Homo sapiens: one gene and its partner. The protein of the gene in region 1 purifies or fractionates together with the protein of each later gene. This does not show direct contact. Each region holds a gene or a part of one and is shown in the gene's direction. Other genes may lie near its edges. The genes, in order: BRINP1 and IQSEC1.

Region 1 (2,476 bases):
TCAGATGTAGATTTGGTCTTTTCACATAGTCCCATATTTCTTGGAGGCTTTGCTCATTTCTTTTTATTCTTTTTTCTCTAAACTTCCCTTCTCACTTCATTTCATTCATTTCATCTTCCATTGCTGATACCCTTTCTTCCAGTTGATCGCATCGGCTCCTGAGGCTTCTGCATTCTACACGTAGTTCTCGAGCCTTGGTTTTCAGCTCCATCAGCTCCTTTAAGCACTTCTCTGTATTGGTTATTCTAGTTATGCATTCTTCTAAATTTTTTTTAAAGTTTTCAACTTCTTTGCCTTTGGTTTGAATGTCCTCCTGTAGCTCAGAGTAATTTGATCGTCTGAAGCCTTCTTCTCTCAGCTCGTCAAAGTCATTCTCCATCCAGCTTTGTTCCGTTGCTGGTGAGGAACTGCGTTCCTTTGGAGGAGGAGAGGCGCTCTGCTTTTTAGAGTTTCCGGTTTTTCTGTTCTGTTTTTTCCCCATCTTTGTGGTTTTATCTACTTTTGGTCTTTGATGATGGTGATGTACAGGTGGGTTTTTGGTGTGGATGTCCTTTCTGTTTGTTAGTTTTCCTTCTAACAGATAGGACCCTCAGCTGCAAGTCTGTTGGAATACCCTGCCTGTGACGTGTCAGTGTGCCCCTGCTGGCGGGGTGCCTCCCAGTTAGGCTGCTCAGGGGTCAGGGGTCAGGGACCCACTTGAGGAGGCAGTCTGCCCGTTCTCAGATCTCCAGCTGCATGCTGGGAGAACCACTGCTCTCTTCAAAGCTGTCAGACAGGAACATTTAAGTCTGCAGAGGTTACTGCTGTCTTTTTGTTTGTCTGTGCCCTGCCCCCAGAGGTGGAGCCTACAGAGGCAGGCAGGCCTCCTTGAGCTGTGGTGGGCTCCACCCAGTTCGAGCTTCCCGGCTGCTTTGTTTACCTAATCAAGCCTGGGCAATGGCGGGCGCCCCTCCCCCAGCCCGCTGCCGCCTTGCAGTTTGATCTCAGACTGCTGCGCTAGCAATCAGCGAGACTCTGTGGGCGTAGGACCCTCCGAGCCAGGTGCGGTAATATAATCTCGCGGTGCGCCGTTTTTTAAGCCCGCCGGAAAAGCACAGTATTCGGTGGGGGAGTGACCCGATTTTCCAGGTGCCGTCAGTCACCCCTTTCTTTGTTTCGGAAAGGGAACTCCCTGACCCCTTGCACTTCCCAAGTGAGGCAATGCCTCGCCCTGCTTCAGCTCGCGCACGGTGCGTGCACCCAATGACCTGCGCCCACTGTCTGGCACTCCCTAGTGAGATGCACCCGGTACCTCAGATGGAAATGCAGAAATCACTGTCTTCTGCGTCGCTCACGCTGGGAGCTGTAGACTGGAGCTGTTCCTATTAGGCCATCTTGGCTCCTCCGCCACATTTTCTTTATCCAGTCTATCATTGATGGGCATTTTGGTTGGTTCCAAGTCTTTGCTATTGTGGACAGGGCTGCAATAAACATCGTGTACATGTCTTTATAGTAGAATGATTTATAATCCTTTGGGTATATACCCAATAATGGGATTGCTGGGTCAAATGGTATTTCTCATTGTAGCTCCTTGAGGAATCGCCACACTGTCTTCCACAATGGTTGAACTGACTTATACTCACATCAACAGTGTAAAAGTGTTCCTGTTTCTCCACACCTTCTCCATCATCTGTTGGGAAATAACCCCTTTCTAACATGTTCTAAAAAACCACCATGAGGATCATGTAAGATCATCAATAGAAATCACTACATGATTTCTAGCGTATGATAAAATATAATTTGTTTTTGTTGAAGTTGGTAGATGTTATACACCCTCATGGGAGGAATCTGTAATGGGGGTTGAAACATGTGGTTTAAGTAAACAAATAACCCCTAAGGTCTTTTTCATTGCTGATTGTTTACAATATGTTGTCATCCAGAAGGGGTATTTGAGTCTAGACACTTTCATTTCCTGAATCACACTTTTCTGGGACTAGTGTATAATGGAATCAAAGAGCTGGAAGGACCCCAAGGAACATTTACTCCAACCCCTTCACTTTGCAGATGAGGACATTGAACATTAGGAAGGTAAAGTACGATGTCATGCAGCTGGTTTGTGGCATTAGGAGGAGCTACAATGTAGTTCTTACGTTTATATTCGATGCCCTTCCTGTATTGTCACTGCTCCATCCAGTCCTTTCATCTTTTTGGCAGCTCCAGTTCGCATTATCAGTTGGATAACTGTAACTCACAGACCCACTCATGGTAGCTAACCTTCTCCAATTTTCCTTTATCTCCCAGGACAATTCAGCAGTGGCTTGCAAGGGTCCAGTCACTCCTCTACTGTAATGAGAATGGGTTTTGGGGAACCTTCCTGGAGAGCCAGCGGAGCTGCGTGTGCCACGGCAGCACCACGCTGTGCCAGCGCCCCATCCCCTGCGTGATAGGCGGGAACAACAGCTGCGCCATGTGCAGCCTGGCCAACATCTCCCTCTGC
Region 2 (3,823 bases), on another chromosome or scaffold:
TGCTGCGACACACAGGGGACTGGGAGTGGGAGGAGTGGTGTCTGCCAGGCACAGCAGCTCCAGGCATGCTGGCTCATTCACATGGCCCCATCCTGCCGATCACTCACCCATTCATTCACTCAGCCCACCATGGTCACTGGACATCTAGTCCACGTCCTGACACACGCCAGGCCTGTGGGCTACGCCTGTAAATGGACCAGGCCCGCCCTGCCTGCATGGAGCTACCGCCCAGAGAAGGGACACAGTAAATAAGACCTGGTGGCACCTGCCAGAGCGGCTCCTGGATACAGCTGGGAAGAGAACGGGGTGGGGCAGTGGGCGCCCCTTCCTGCACACACCCCTCTCTCCTCAGCCGCTCTGGGGCCTGAGGCCCTCTCTCCTGGTCCTCCTGGCCTCCCACGATCCCACAACGTTCCAACTCCTGCCCAGCCCTGCCTGGAAGGCTCACCCTGCCACACTCTTGCCCATGCTGGCTCCTCTGCCGGGAGTGCCCTTCTTCCCCTTCACCTCAGACCTCACAGCCCAGCCTGTGCCTCTTTCCTGACTCCCCCAGGCAAATGGGCCCCCTCATAGAGCTCCCGCATGGCGCGTGGCGAGTCCTCGCTGTGACAGACACAGTGCCGGCCCCTCTGTTGTCACCAGCTGCCCGGAAGTCCTGCCTTTGCTTTCTAGCATCCCTGAGGGGCCTGGCCTGACAAGGTACAAATCACCATTTTTAAAATTGTGGTAAGATAGACAGAAAACTTCCTTTTTTAAAGCTGAACACTGTTGCGTTGTGCAGATCGACCACATGTTTGCCTTTTTTAATTACACACATTTCAGCGGCAGTAAGTGCATTCACAGTGCCGTGCAGCCAACACAGCATCCATCTCCAGAACTTCACTTTCCCAAACAGGGCTCTGTGCTCTGTAAGCGCAGACTCCCATCTTGCATCCCCAGCCCCTGGCACCCACCATTCTGCTCTCTGTCCCTGTGAATATGACTGCCCTGGGGATGTCATGTGAGTGGAATCAGACAGCATTTGTCCTTTCCTGACTGGCTTACTTCACTTAGCCTCATGTCCTCAAGGTTCATCCCTGCTGCGGCAATGGGCAGAACTTCCTTTTTAAAGCTGAACACTGTTCCATTGTGCGGATGGACCACATTTTGTTTGTCCATTCACCCATTGATGGACACTGGGTTGTTTCTGCCTTTTGGCTGTTGTGAATAGTGCTGCTGTGAACATGGGTGTGCAAATACCTCTCCGAGTCCCTGGTTCCATTTCTGTTGGGTGTATACTCAGAAGTGGGATTGCTGGGTCAGATTGTGATTGGATGCTGACTGTTTTGAAGAGCCGCCATACTGTTTTCCACAGCAGCTGCACTGCTTTACCTTCCCTCCACCACTGCACAAAGGTCCTGGTTTCTCCACATCTTCGCCATCACTCATTACTTTCTGTTTTTCTTTAATAATAGCCATCCTAATGGTGTGAAGTGGTATCTTGTGTTTTTAAATTTCCCCCTCTTGAATAAAAGTGTGAGTGATGAAGTTTAGCTTACAAAAGGGATGGTTACGTCTTTGTTGTTTTTCAAATATAGTCATATAACTGAGAGATTATTCATCCACATGGTACAAAAAAAGGCTGCACATATTGTCTATTTGGTTCCCTTGCTTCTTGTTCTTCTGCCCAGAGGCCACGGCTGTGTCCAGTTCCTTTGGGTCCTTGGTGAATTTCTGTGCATTTATATGTGTGCTTCATCATTGAAGTGCTCCCTCAGCAAGCTGGTGACACAGAGCAGTTTAGTTTTCCCACCACTGTTTTGTGGTTTCTGGATTTGAGCCAATGAAACGCTCAACTTGGGGGATGTGTGACCAGCCGGCCCCTGCAGGAGGTGGTGGTCTCCTTCCATGGGAAGCCCTGGCCAGCTGCTTGCAGTGGGGCCTCCATGAAGGAAGCCAAGCCCTGTGTGTCTTCCCCAGGCAGGAGAAGGGAGGCTGGTGGGACTGGGCCTGAACATTCCAAGATGAACACCCCCACACATCTCCAGGAAGCCTATGCGTCAAGCCTTCATCATTGTCACCTTAGCTGGCTCTCCGTCCAGGTCAGTCCTGGGCACAGTTATCAGCATCTCTTTGACAGTGGGCCCCAGATTCAGGCAGAGCTGCCAGAGGGCATGTGGGAGCAGGGCCAGCCTAGGTTGTGCAGGACAGGCCCCCACACCAAGAATCCACACAGATATTTATGGGCATGAAAATCTGCGAGCAACTATCCGAGTCTGGTCCTCACTCCTCTTGACATCTAAACCACAAAATGCATTTTGTATGATTTGAATATGCATTGAGTTTTCCAGGAATGCAACTGCTCTCGCAGTCGAGGGAAGATCAGACTCTGATATGTTCGGAGCTCAGCCAAGAGCTGCCACCATTCAGAGCACCACATCACCAAGGACAGCATCTCTCATGGTGCCAGAGTGCCCAGTGAACTCCAGCATCCATCTGGGTTTGTGGTCGCTGTCACACGACCAGGCAGGTGACTATAGGGTAGGCCCACCCACGATTAACATGACAAATTACCGTTTATTTTATTCTAAATTATTTTCCTCTTTTTTTTTCTCTGTAATTTTACCATTCAGCCATTCTCTTGGTTCTGTTTTAAATATGTGTGTGGATGGATCACATGAGTCATCAGCTTCATTTGAGAAGAGAGAAGAGGATAGTGCAAAGCTCTGGATTTAAGGAGCGGGGTGCTGGACAAGGGATCTTTGTGGTAATGGAGCTATTGTGTATTTTGACTGTGGTGGCACTTGTATGTGCCTGTATGTGTGTGCATGCGTGTGTTTAGTTCTATGCAGGCGTATCATGTATGCAGGCTCCACGGTACAAGCAAAATCGGAAAGCTACCTAAGATGGGAGGACAGTGCAGTGTCAGAATCCTGGTAGTGATGGATCCTATAGTTTTGTAAGATGTTACCATTGGGGGAAACGATGTATATAAGATCTCTCTGTATTGTTTTTTGTTTTTTTTTTTTTTACAACTGCAAATGAATCTACGATTATCTCAAAATAAAAAGTTTAATTTTTAAAAGGTGAGGGTGGGTATCAGGTCTGACAGGCTGAGATCCCTGGTAATTGAGGACAGCAGACAGCCAGTGACCTCCCAGTCTCAGTTCCTTGGTGGTGCACCATGGTCACCAACCTCTACTGCCCTCCACTCCCTGACACCTGAGACACCTTGGGCCCTTCTCTCCAAGGCTGCATCCCACCAGGGGCACTGGGGCCGGCCCCTCACCCCAGAAAGGAAACACAAGTCCCTTTTGCTGCCAGCTGGGGCCTGGCTGGCCCCCAGGGGTTCTGAGTTTCAGACCCTGCTCTGCCAGCAGGCAGTGGTTTCAGCTGGCTGATGGAGCAGAGGTCTTATCCATTGTCCCCCAATGCCTCCCAGAACCGGGGCCCCAGCCCCAGCCCAGGCCTCTTCTCAGGTGGGCCTTCCTGCTCCCCTGGGCTTGCAGAACAGCCCTGCTGACGGCCACTCCTGCCCTCCTCTGCCCTGTGCCCGCAGCATTCCTGATGACACAGTCACCATGCTTGTCTGTGCCTCCTGCCACCACAGTGGGCAGCTGGGACAGAGACAAATAACATTCCATCAAATGCCATTTTGAAGACAAAAATGGACCAGTCAACTAAAGCTAAAAGGTTAAGGGAAGGAAGCAAGTACTTTTTATGACTTTGTCATTCTACAAATTGACTGTTCTATGAATTAGCTTTCAGTGAATTGACTTGTCACTGGTTGAAGGAAAGCTGGGACATGGCTGGTGAGGTTGTGGGCAGGACTAGGGCAGTGAAC

What was found.
Region 2: the proteins of BRINP1 (region 1) and IQSEC1 purify together in Homo sapiens (affinity purification with mass spectrometry; one large-scale study listed by BioGRID and IntAct). This does not show direct contact.

What each region holds. Positions count from the first base shown.
Region 1 is NC_000009.12:119,168,029-119,170,504, reverse strand, and holds part of BRINP1 (BMP/retinoic acid-inducible neural-specific protein 1 precursor), read left to right. Parts: intron 1-2,280; coding exon 2,281-2,476. UniProt on the Homo sapiens protein: Plays a role in neurogenesis and brain development. May suppress cell cycle progression in postmitotic neurons by inhibiting G1/S transition.
Region 2 is NC_000003.12:13,063,189-13,067,011, reverse strand, and holds part of IQSEC1 (IQ motif and SEC7 domain-containing protein 1), read left to right. Parts: intron 1-3,823. UniProt on the Homo sapiens protein: Guanine nucleotide exchange factor for ARF1 and ARF6. Guanine nucleotide exchange factor activity is enhanced by lipid binding. Accelerates GTP binding by ARFs of all three classes.